Regions from separate parts of the Homo sapiens genome. Here regions 1, 2 and 4 are each reported to be linked to region 3. Evidence: microRNA targets listed by miRTarBase, many of them from high-throughput screens and not tested one by one. Region 3 holds a microRNA gene; each other region holds the end of a gene's coding sequence.
Evidence for each region. Region 3 holds the annotated microRNA hsa-miR-30b-3p (CUGGGAGGUGGAUGUUUACUUC, at 1,696-1,717, opposite strand). A microRNA usually pairs through its seed, bases 2 to 8, with sites in the 3' UTR of a target mRNA and lowers its output. Matches are read on the target gene's strand: a 7mer-m8 pairs with bases 2 to 8, a 7mer-A1 pairs with bases 2 to 7 and ends in A, and an 8mer does both.

Region 1 (3,104 bases), not on the chromosome of region 3:
CCATAGTCTCAGCTACTTGGGAGGCTGAGGCAGGATCACTTGAGGCCAGAAGTTTGAGGCTATAGTGCACACTGATCATACTGTGAATAGCCACTGCACTGCAGCCTGGGCAACATAGGGAGACCTCATTTCCTCAAGGAAAAAAAAAGTGCACAAAAGCCACTGTAGTCAACTAGGATATTTAGACCACAGGTAGTCATCTTATTCTTACTGTCACAGATTATTGTTCCACATCAGCGTGGCTAGGGCATCTGGTTACCTGCCAAGGTCAAATCTGCTTTTAGAAAATATAATTAATGATTTCTCCTTTCTCCCCTTTCTGTTTTCTTTCTACCCTGGGATACAAGCAGAGATAGCCCCCTCCTGTCTCTCATTCACTTTAACACTGAGGTGGGAACTATTGCCTCTTTTCTTTTACAGGCAAATGGCATCAAGATTGGGCCCCAACAGTCAATTTCAACATCAGTGGGACCCAGTGCCTCCCAGCGGAACTCTCGTGACATAGGGTCCAACTCTGGCTGCTGCTGAACATCTGGCTTGAACTTTTTTTGTCCTTCCTGGAATAGCTTCAGATCAATAGGCTTAATGAAAGAGGTCTTTCTTGCTTTGGCTGAGAGCAGCCTCTTTTTAAAGTGTGATGTTTTGCCTTTCCACCTAAAGACCAGGAGAGAATTTGGGCCCTTACTGACCTGTCCTCCTTCAGGGACATGAGCATTCCCTATAGATTAGGGTTCTTCTTATCCTCCTATACAAATTTCTTAAATTGTTAGGATCAAAGTTGATTATCACAGTAGTTAAAAAATAATTTCATGGCGGGGCGCCATGGCTCATGCCTGTAATCCTAGCACTTTGGGAGGCCAAGGTGGGCAGATCACCTGAGGTCAAGAGTTCGAGACCAGCCTGACCAACTTGGAGAAATGCCATCTCAACTGAAAATACAAAATTAGCTGGGTGTGGTGGTGCATGCCTGTAATCCCAGGTACTCGGGAGGCCAAGGCAGGAGAATCGCTTGAACCCAGGAGGTGAAGGTTACGCTAAGCCAAGATCACGCCATTGCACTGCAGCCTGGGCAACAAGAGCAAAACTCTGTCTCAAATAAATAAATAATTTTTTTTTTCTTTTTTTTTTTTTTTTTTTGGGGGGATGGAGTCTCACTCTGTCTCCAGGCTGGAGTGCAGTGGCATGATCTTGGCTCACTGCAACCTCCACTTTCCAGGTTCAAGCAGTTCTCCTGCCTCAACCTCCCGAGTAGCTGGGACTACAGGCATGTGCCACCACACCTGGCTCATTTTTGTATTTTTAGTAGAGACAGGGTTTCACCATGTTGGCCAGGATGGTCTTGATCTCTTGACCTCGTGATCCGCCCACCTTGGCCTCCCAAAGTGCTGGATTACAGGTGTGAGCCACCGTGCCTGGCCTAAATAAATAATTTCGTAAGCATATACAATCCACTTCCCACTAAGAATTAGGGTCAAAGACATTCTATTTGAACACTTGCAATTACCTAGATCTAGTTGGCCTTTGGTTGATAGATCCTCTGCCTCGGAATTTCATTGAGTTTTTTTCTTCCTTGCCTTTGGGTGTCTGCTTGCCACTTCCTAAGAATTCTTGTAGAAGGCAGTTTCCTCTACTTGCCCAAGAGCACTGAGTACTTCTCTACTATCCTATTATTAGCTTCTATCTCTTAGTGTAACTTCAAAACTTTTAAGAGCAGTGAAGTTGGTCAGGGACATGTGGCCACTTATTATTACCTAAAGAAAACATTTGTTCCCTGTTCATTTTATTTTAGGGGCCAGATCTAACATTGTAGTGTCTTTCACCAGATAGACTTCTACTGTTTCATCAAACTCCCTTCTTAACTAGACCTAGACTTTCTACTCCAATCAGGCTAATCTACTTACTGAATGTGACATATTTATTCCTAGTTCCATACCTTTGCACATGCCCTACTCTCCACTAATTATACTTAAAAGTCCAAAAATTTTTTCTTTAGTAACAGACTTAGGTACTGCTAAGCAGTTATTAACACAATATTCCTTAGTTTTCATATGTTGGTTATTCATATGTCTATTTATATGTATATTTATTTTTATGTATGTTACTATGTAAATATGGTTTGCAGTTGTTTTTGTGTGGAATCTTGTCTTTCCGTATAAGTTGTAAGCTCCTTGAGAGCAGGATCCATGTCATTCCTTTATTTTTATAAATTATTCCCCCTATCATTCCTTTACAGTGCCTAGTGCTACTCATTATGTGTTCATTGAATTTGACTGACATAGTTAAAAACTTAAGGTTTATTTTAGACTTTCAAGGAAACAAAAGACTTTAGAGTCCTCTCTCTGTAATTCTGCCCCACTCATTTGTTTACCCTGGGTTTTATACAGTTCTCTTCCTTCTCCCCTCCCACCTTTCCCTGGCTTTTTGCCTCCATTCCATGAGGCATACAGTAAGGCTGCCTGCTAGTAAGCAGTCACATAAGTGGGTACCTATCCAGCCATTCTCTTTTCAGAGCATATAATACTATCTTAGCCAAACTTGCCTTTGCTTCACTCATCATGCAGCCTTCTGGGTTGGTTGCTATATATATCTTTTTTCCTTGATGTCCCGTTCTCTTCCACAGCCCTGAGGTCTTACGAATTTTTCTACTTTCTTTTTGCTGTTGATGAATTGTTTCATTATTAAATATATGCATGTATCAAAGCTATTCATACTCCATGTGTCATTTCTAATTGTATCCCAAACATTAGTAGATACTCTCCTCTCAGGGAATTAAATCAAAGATAATGAAGAAGCCTCTTTGGGATTCATGCTATACTCGATTCTGACCCCAGTAGTAGTAGTAATAGTTGACAGTGCACCACAGGAAGTTGGAAGACATTTGGGGTATTGCTTTGGTTATGCTTTTGTTTTGTTTTTAAAATCCTATCTGATTCCAAAAAGGATTTGAAGCTGTTGAACTTGGAGTTAGCCTGCCCCCTTACCTCTGGGCGAAAACTAAAGTAATAAAAACTAGTTTCTGTACAGAAGGTTTTTTTTTTGTTTTTTTTTTTTTTACTACCCAAAAAAACAATCTTTAGCAATTGAGAAGCATTAGAGGATTGGTC
Region 2 (3,104 bases), not on the chromosome of region 3:
GACAGGAATATAAGCTTAACACTTATTATCAGTCTTCCTTATTTTAAGCCCAAACTTTTGTTACTATTCAGTCACATGATTTTGGCAAGGTAACTAAGATCCCTGAGCTCCAATTTCCTCATGAAAATAGTGAAGGATGTGCAGATATATATACATATAAAATACATATACATAAAACATAAAAATACATATATACGTACGTATATACATATATGTGTGTATATACGTACGTATATACATATATGTGTGTATGCGTACGTATATACATATATGTGTGTATGCGTACGTATATACATATATGTGTGTATGCGTACGTATATACATATATGTGTGTATGCGTACGTATATAAATATATGTGTGTATGCGTACGTATATACATACATACATGCATGTACATATATACGTATATATGTATGTACATAATGTGTATATATGTACGTACATACATATATGTGTATATATGTACGTGCATACATATATGTGTATATATGTACGTACATATATACGGGTATATATGTACGTACATACATAGATATGGGTATATATGTACGTACATACATATATATGTATATACATGTAAGTATATACATATATATGGGTATACATGCATGTATATACATATATATGGGTATACATACATGTATATGTATGTATGTATTTTTTTTTCCCAATGCTGTGAATTGCTTTGCCTGCTATGAAGGACCAAATGCTATTTTTTCCAGGCACAACTTAATATTTTATTAACTAAATTATACTAAATGTTACCAGTTGCCTAGGGTAATGTCATAGTAAGTACTCTGAGATAAATTCTTGTCTGCTGTAGGATTCCTTAAGCTGAAGTCTATGTTAACTCAGCCAGCACTCCAGCGATCAGGGTGATTTTGCTGTGCCACAAATATGCCCAGTTTACTGCATTCTTCTTCAAGGCACTTACCCTCTCTTTAAAGCCTTGATAACATTTCCCCTTCTTCCTTTATGAGCACTTTCAAAGTCTTAAACATTTTCACCTGATGACTTCAACAGGTGCATGTTGGGGACTTGGCAGCTGTGGTTTTCGTCACACACACAGCCGACATCTGAACAAAGGCACAGACATTCCTAACCACAATCCACACATTGCTTACCTATTTCCATCCTCAAAAACTTAAATTAATGGATTTTAAATTTCTTAATATTCCTAGAGAGAGAAAAAGGGCAGGCCCAGGAATTTAGATACAAGCCTACATTCAAATAACACATTTCAATTAGGAGAATGTAAAATATAAACTCTCCTACTATATATATACTTGAACACTAGAGGGAAAATCACCCAACATGTTAAATAAAAATTCCACAAGGTAGATATTGTATAGTGTATCTTTAACTGAAAACACTTCATGCAACTTTTATAGTTTCCACGTGCAGCCTAAGCCCTAATCTGTTTCAATAAAATAAATGTATGTTGGCTGGGTATGGTGGCTCACACCTATAATCCCAGCATTTTGGGAGGCCGAGGCAGGCAGATCACTTGAGGTCAGGAGTTCAAGACCAGCCTGGCCTACATGGCGAAAACCCTTCTCTACTAAAAATACAAAAAAAAAAAAAAAAAAAAAAAATTAGCCAGGTGTGGTGGCAGGTGCCTGTAATCCCAGCTACTCGGGAGGCTGAGGGAGGATAATTGCTTAAACCCAGGAGGCAGAGGTTGCAGTCAGCTGAGATTGTGCCACTGCACTCCAGCCTGACAGAGGGCGACTGCATTTCAAAACAATAAAAAATAAAATAAATAGAGTAAGTGTATGTATAGATTAAAAGTCACCTCTAATGAATTAAAGGACACCCATAATTATAACATGCAAGGGAAAATATTAATATTTCAGATGTATATACCAATGAAAACTGGAAATAAGAACTTGATTTTAAAAGGTAGCAGTATCTGAATTGAAATAACTAATTTAACTCTATGATGTACAATAGATTCTCTACCTTATAGAAGATAACTAACCAGGGATTGACCAGAATCACCTACGAAACTTTCCAGACACTTTTAAGTTCATTCAGAAAAACTAGAGACCCTTTAAAATAATGTAAGTCATAATTATAGTTCATAAACCAAAAATAACATACAATTTAAAAACAGAAAAGAAGGAAATGACATCTGTTTTAGGGATCTTGAGTAATATGTGGCAAATGGGGAAAATGCTAGAAACAAACAGTTCCGTTCCCTGGTATCCCACTCACCCTTTTTTATTAAAGTGTAGACATTTTTAACACAAGACAAAAAGACAAAATATCACCTGGTGACAGGACAATTATAGAAGTGAGAATAATTCTGAAGTTTATCCATTAGCTTCATAATAGTGTAAATTATTAATTAACAGTTAGGATAATAACTGAAGTTTTCTAAATTCTCATTCCTTGAAAGAATAGCTCACCCCATCATTATTTCTATTTGACCGTTCATGTCTCTGTGGAAAGATTCATTTGAAGGCTATTATTTTCCACTTATCTACTATTTTTTTCTGGTTCAGGCAATTAATATTTGTCATACACAAAAGTATTCTTTATTTCACAGATATAAACATTAATCTGCTTTATAATCTAAGCATCACATCCTACAAATTATAGAGAAGATATAAAAGACAACTGAAACATTCTACCACACACAGCAGCGGGGGCACAAAGCACAATTAAGATACGCAAATAGATGTTTTAGAAAATAGGTAATTTTTTGTGTTCTTCATGCTATCAGAAGCTGACCAATGAGTCCAGAATTTCTTTCCTTGATTAATGAAGCAATAATGATAGCACCTTGCCTTAAACTCTCCTGTAGCTTCTGATCATCCTGAAAAGAAAGGATAAACCAGTAATATTTTAGAAAAAACATATGCCATGTGTTAAGTTTGATAAAAAGCCACTTTTCAAGATCTGCTGCGGTCTGGATTTGGCATTTTAGAAACTCAGACTCTAGCCACTGTCATGGACACGGTTCCCCGAATAAAGAGGAAATACTTTCACAAACACTTTTCATTATAGACCAAAAAATATTTGCTTAAGATGCAAGGAAAAACACTGACACAATTTCAAATGCTAACAGAAAGAAAAGATTATTTCCCCTTAATCCAAT
Region 3 (3,104 bases):
GAAAGAAAAATTCTATATTTTATGCACTGAGGTTCAAAAACAAATTGATGGGCAATTCCCAAATATGCTTAATTTGGGAGAAAAACACTTCATAAAACTACCTTTACATTATATGCTTTGTAATGCATTGCAATATGTTTCTCAAAGTACTATAAATTATAAAATAATGTAAAAATTTGGCAAGTTTCAAATTAACATGTGGAGCTCACTAAAACATAGTATGCTATGCACCTAAGTACAGAATAAAACAGCTCTCTCGTAATGACAAAGAAAATTAACAAATTATTCATTAAACAAATAAAATATATAATTAGAAAAACAGCACTCACCTTCAACAAGTCTCCATGCTTTCATTTCACATTTTTATTTAATCATGTATTTCTCATAACATTTAGACATCTTCCACAGGAGCACCAAGCATGAATTCTAATTCTGGATTTAGGCACAGGCAAGAGCATACAGACACTTGCCAAGCTGCTAGGATGTGTGTACTTCTTACATAATTTTCGTTTTATACTTGTTTGTTTTGCTTTTCACCTATACAGAATGTGGATGTATCACCAAAAAAAGAAAAGGCAGGCTGATTTCATGGAACTGAAAAACAAAGCTATAAAAAATTAATTTTCAGTATTTTAAGTAAAGACATGAAAATGGAAATAACGTTTAGACCAATCAGTACATATATAGAACTAATTATCAGGTATTAGCTTATTTTTAAATTGTTACCTCATTTAGTCTCAACAATCCTATCAGGTAGGTGCTATTATAATTTCAATTTAGTCGACTGAGGAAACTGAGGCACAGAGAGATTAATAACTTCCCCCAAAGTAACATAGCGAAGTAACTCGCAGAATCAAGATATGAGCTCCAGAAGCTGGGATTCAAAATTCTTTGCCACTATATTACAACAATATCAAAGATTCAAAGCATTTCCATTAAACCAAAAAGTTGGCATCATCTTTATTGCAAAAATAAAAACAAGTTATGTCTGCTTTAAGCATTATGGCAACTATTTACTGAACACCTACAACACAGCATTAATAATAACTAGCATTTATTGAGTACTTAATATGACAGGTACTGTACTAATGAACAACTTTATATTCATCATGTAAGTCAATCCATGCAATCACATACTTATTTTACAGATGAGAAAACCACTGAGGTATGGAAACAGTGCCTTTCCCTCCTCCAAATCCCGTAGCAAATTCACTTGTGGAGTCCAGATGGCAACAAATGTCTGATGTCAAAGCCCATGCTTGTTAAAGCACACTGCAATACTACAAACCCGACCCCAACTACCAAACAAGGGCATTCTTTTGTCCCAATACCCAGAGCCTTATGTCATGTTAGTGCTATAGCAAAATTGAAAAGATACAATAAAAATTTAAATTGAGTAACAAATTTAAAGGAATTTTAATAAATTTAGAGTAATTTTTCCTCTATAAGCATACTGTTTTTCTGTTTTAACTACTCCTACTGCAACCATGCTTTCTTCTGCTTTTCTCTGCAAACATATTCAAGTAGATCCCTGCCAGCTAGACAATTAACACACTTTTTCTCTGGGAGAACAAAATGGTCTCACATTTCCAACAAACCTTTAATTACATTAATTACATTAAAAATTCAAGCCTCTGTATACTATTCTTGCCAAATCTTTTATCAATGTTAATTGGTTGACATTCCAAGTCAGCTGAAGTAAACATCCACCTCCCAGCCAATCCATGTATTACAGCTGAGTGTAGGATGTTTACATGAACTGAAACTTGGTTTAAAGCAGGACTTAAACTCTTTACTAAGTTTGTACGGTTCTTTACGTAAGACTCTGTTGAAAAAAAGAACAGGCACAGCATTCACATAAATGAGGCAAGACTCAATCGGAAAGATATCCTGAGAGAAAGTGTAGAATCCAAGGAAAAGGCAGAAGTGAGTTGGGTGTTTGTTTTTTTGGAAGTGGGGGCGTGTCCAGGGCAGTGGGGGGCACTACAGGCACGCTACTATGCCCGGCTAATTTTTCTTATTAATAAAATTTTTTTTAGAGACAAGGTCTCACTATATTGCCCAGGCTAGTCACAAACAAGTGATAACGTTTTTCACCAAAGGAATTTACAACAATAAATGCCGACATCCTGTAGTGTTCCATATCTAAATGTAGCTGATTATCCAGCCTTCCTATATCCTTCCCTTCAAAACAATCAAACTTGCATTTATAAGAACTTACTTGATGACCAGTATGATGCATCAACCAATCTTCATTAAGAAGATTCCTCCTTTAGGTAAAAGACAGTTAATGAAACACTGTGAGGAGCTTAGTCATCTCTCCTCCCCCTCAACCCTCTCCTCATCTTCTCCCCCACATTCAGAATTCAGATAATTTCATCTCAGGCACATCTTTCCCACACTCTGATCTCTTTCCACCTTCTACTGTTCCCAGTGTCATTAAGGTGTCTCAAAGAAATGTCTCCCCCTCTTTTTGCATTCTTTCTGATTAAAAATATATTCCCACAAATATCTCCACTAACTATTATCAGTGGTCCTACCAACACACTTGCATCAAAGAAGAGGAAATCTTCAAATTTGGAAGTAAAACTACATATAATAACCACTGCCAGCAAACTTTAAAAATCTTTGGCATTTCACAGGTAACCCAGGACTTTCAGGAACCTCGCCAGTCTCTACCTAGTCTCTTGTCCCTTCGGGCTGTTTTCCAAAAGCATTGGTTCTCAAGATTAAATACACATATACCTCCCCGCCACCCCACTCTACAACCATACTGCTTTTCTGTTTTAACTACTTCTATTACAACCGTATTTTTTTCTTCTGCTTTTCTCTGAAAACACATTCAAATAGGCCCCTCCCAGCTAGACAATTAATATACTTTTTCTCTGGGAGAAAAAATGGTCTCACATTTTCAACAAACCTTTTTATAATCAAACTTCTGGATTAATACATGTTTTTAAGTTAAGGATTTTTCTGTTTTACTTCATGTATTAATTGGGCATAATATCTAGCAGGAAAAGAATGTAAGATGAGCTCTGTGATTCTGAAAGCATGGGCCTAGAGGAGCAGCATCAGCAGTACTTGGGAACTGTGGGGGGAAAAGC
Region 4 (3,101 bases), not on the chromosome of region 3:
AAAAAAATAAACAATAAAAATAAAATAAAATGGTTAAAATTGTAAATTTCACGAGGTATATTTTCACACAATGAAAATAAATAAATAAACGGATGAGATCTAGTCTCATCTTTACCTGCTCTCTCATTAATTCTCCTCCAACCCCCTGACCTCTCCTAGGCTGTCTCTTTTTGTCAGTTCCTGTTCTCTAAACAGGGAAAGGGCCCCAGATTCCCTCCAATCTCTATGATCCCTTTCCAGCTGGTATTACCAGGCCCTTGGCTTTTTTTTTTTTTTTTTTTGAGATGGAGTCTCGCTCTTGTTGCCTAGGCTGGAGTGCAGTGGCACGATCTCAGCTCACTGCAACCTCCACCTCCCGGGTTCAAGCGATCCTCCTGCCTCAGCCTCCTAAGTAGCCGGGATTACAGGCACCTGTCACCACACCCGGCTAATTTTTGTATTTTTAGTAGAGACGGGGTTTCACCATCTTGGCCAGGCTGGTCTCGAACTCCTGACCTTGTGATCCACCCGCCTTGGCCTCCCAAACTGCTGGGATTACAAGCGTAAGCCACCACGCCCAGCCAAGGCCCTTGGCTTTGATTCCAGCTGTACCCTGCGCACTGTCAGCAGCCATGAACCCCCAGCCCAGGTGTCCGCCTGAGCCCCAGCGGGGACCCTAACAGGCGCAATGCAGTCAGAACACAGCTCCCTCTTCCTTGACCTTCCTCCCGTCTCCCCTTCTCTGTTAACAGCCGTTCCCCCAGATGCTCCGGTCTAACATCTAGGCGGGCCCTATGATTCTCATCTTCTCTAGCCCCAACTTCCAACCCATCAGCACATCCCACAGCTCTTCCTCCAAAGCACACCCTAAGCAGCCCAAGCGGCCCTCTTCCCTGCTCCCCACTGCCATGCCCTCGCAGCCATCCTGGCTTCCTGCCTGGACTGCTGCAGTGGCATCCACCCCAGCCCTCCCAGCCATTCCTTCTCCTCACAGAAGCCAGAGCGATGATCCTAAATGAAACTCAGCTCAGCACATCCCAGCTCCAAATCCTCCCGATCCAGCACTCCCGGGTCACTGTGCACATTCCTCCTCCTTGATCACAACACCCCCAGCCACCTAGCCCCTGCCCACCCACCTCTGCCTCATGCTGGAGGCAGGGCCCACCCTCACCCACAGCCACCAGCCTTCTTCCTGTTCCTTGTCCCACCTCAGCACCTCTGCCCCTGGCTGTCCCTCTGTCTGAAAGCTCTCCTCCTGAACTTCATGAAGCCACATTCCCAACTTGGCCTCCATGTCACCCCTTCTGCAAGGCCTTCCTATCCACAACCACTGAAGCGGCCCTGGCCACTTTCTCCCACTCCTCAGATTCCTTGGCCAGCACCACCGCTTTACCTACACCCCATCCCTGGAGAGGCCCTGCTCACTACCTGCTACCAGCTCCTAGGACAGGCCTGGCTCAGGGGCGCTGTGCAGCAGGGAGGGGTGGGCGACCAAACCAGTGGAAACTCATGGTCTCACAAACGGAGCCCATCATTTGGAAAGGTGCCAGCAGGCAGGTGAAATCCATGGGGGGAGGGGATAGAGTGACAAAACCACTACGGCTTATTGGGGGCAGGGGGCGGCCTAACTGAATGGTGACTGTGGCCATTACTCCCCCTGACTCAGGGCTTGCAGCAGGGACATGGACCATGTGTGTGCAGGAAGCCTGACCTTTAGAGACACAGCCCAATCCTCTGCCACCATCCCCAGCCCAGCTGCGCATAGTGTGAAACAGTCCTGCAACTCACCCTGAAGGAGTGGGGGAAATGATTTGAAAGTCACAAAAATATATTAAAACAGCAGCTGTCTTCACTCTAGGCACTGGCCTCCCTTCCCAGTGCCCCTTGCCCACCACCCGCCATACACTTTCAGAGACAGATGCCCAGGGCAGGAAAACGGATGCGCCTCAGCCGCAGCCCAGGGTCTGGAGAGGTCCCTCCAGCCTGGGAGTAGAGGGCGGCTAACAGTCTCAACAGGCTCGACGCCACCGCCGACGAGGGGGCCGCTGGGAGGCCGGAGGTACAGGAGGGTCGGGCAGGACGCAGCGGACAGTCGGGCCTTGCCACGGGGACAGAAAACAGAAGAGAAATGAACAAAGTGAAGACAGGGAGAGAGAGAAGTCACAGCAGTGGGGGGAGGCGCAGAGGAGTGAGGGAGGTCAGTGGGGAGTGGGGGAAGGGAGGCCCACCAGGTGACACCCACTTAGTTGAGGGGGACAGGGAGGCTGATGAGCTGGGGTCTGAGGCAGCAGACCCTGCTCAGGGGAAGAAGGGGAATGTAGGAGAGGAAGAAGCCCCCTGGCACTTGGGAGAGGTAGAAAAGTGGGTTCTGCCAAGGCCACAGCCAGAGAAGAAAGCACAGAGGACATGAGAGAAGGGGAGTCCTGGAGCAGGCCAGGCCAGCTGCGACGACCATCCCAGGCTAGGAGAAATGGGGTGATCCCCCGAATGCTCGGGCCTAGCTCTAGAGCCCGAGGGAGACAAGCTGTGTCATCCAGGAGCTGGTGGGAGGCGTGATGAAGCCAGGAGCCTGGGGCGGCCAGGGCAGATGCCCGCAGGCTCTGCTGCCTGCACCCCGCCCACAGGTGGGCTAGAAGGTCCTGCGGCCCAGTCTTTTGAACACGCTCACAGTGCCCGCGTGGTCCATCTGGGCACCAAGGCCCTCGCTGGAGCTGCTCCCCCGGGGCCCCACCAGAGTCCTCTTAATGGTGACCTTGACCTCGGCTGAGGACTTACTCTTGGTGCTGGTGACCTGGCTGTCCTGGGCCTCGGGCACAAGGGCAGCTGCGCCCAGTCTCTTGATGATGCTGACTTTAGACAAGGACTCCGGCTTCCTCTCAAGCCCAGACCGTGAGGAAAGCGCCAGGCGCCGCAGTGTCGGGGCAGCAGCCGTTGTCGCTGAGCTTGTGGCCTTGGCTTTGACAGTCAGTGCTGGCTGGGGACTGGCCTTGGCTGGGCCCCGTCCTAGCTTCTTCAGGACCCCGGCATACTGCAAGACAGAGCTGCTGCTGTCATTGTCGCTGTCCCAAGCCAGATCCTCGTCCGTTTCTGGGGTGGCCCCCAGGCGGCTGAAGACTCCTGTG

Region 1: the mRNA of RAB2B is a reported target of hsa-miR-30b-3p. Seed matches in the 3' UTR shown: 8mer at 1,374-1,381 and 7mer-m8 at 2,400-2,406.
Region 2: the mRNA of CRPPA is a reported target of hsa-miR-30b-3p. Seed matches in the 3' UTR shown: 8mer at 1,483-1,490.
Region 4: the mRNA of C19orf47 is a reported target of hsa-miR-30b-3p. Seed matches in the 3' UTR shown: 7mer-m8 at 2,524-2,530, 7mer-A1 at 2,324-2,330 and 7mer-m8 at 2,026-2,032.

Annotation. Positions count from the first base shown.
Region 1 is chr14:21,458,620-21,461,723 of GRCh38, reverse strand. It overlaps RAB2B (RAB2B, member RAS oncogene family), which reads left to right. Exons shown (of 8, transcript NM_032846.4): 8 at 421-2,704. The coding sequence ends at 528. All of the region lies in intron 1 of LOC124903283 (a long non-coding RNA gene), which reads right to left. Among named protein-coding and RNA genes, the nearest start is that of CHD8, 4.0 kb to the right of the region's middle.
Region 2 is chr7:16,088,978-16,092,081 of GRCh38, forward strand. It overlaps CRPPA (CDP-L-ribitol pyrophosphorylase A), which reads right to left. Exons shown (of 10, transcript NM_001101426.4): 10 at 1-2,822. The coding sequence ends at 2,718. Among named protein-coding and RNA genes, the nearest start is that of CRPPA-AS1, 120 kb to the right of the region's middle. RefSeq lists a silencer at 2,794-2,994.
Region 3 is chr8:134,798,837-134,801,940 of GRCh38, forward strand. MIR30B (microRNA 30b) reads right to left here and starts at 1,771; the gene lies at 1,684-1,771. It also overlaps a transcript of ZFAT not described here.
Region 4 is chr19:40,319,274-40,322,374 of GRCh38, forward strand. It overlaps C19orf47 (chromosome 19 open reading frame 47), which reads right to left. Exons shown (of 9, transcript NM_001256441.2): 9 at 263-3,101. The coding sequence ends at 2,609. Among named protein-coding and RNA genes, the nearest start is that of C19orf47, 28 kb to the right of the region's middle.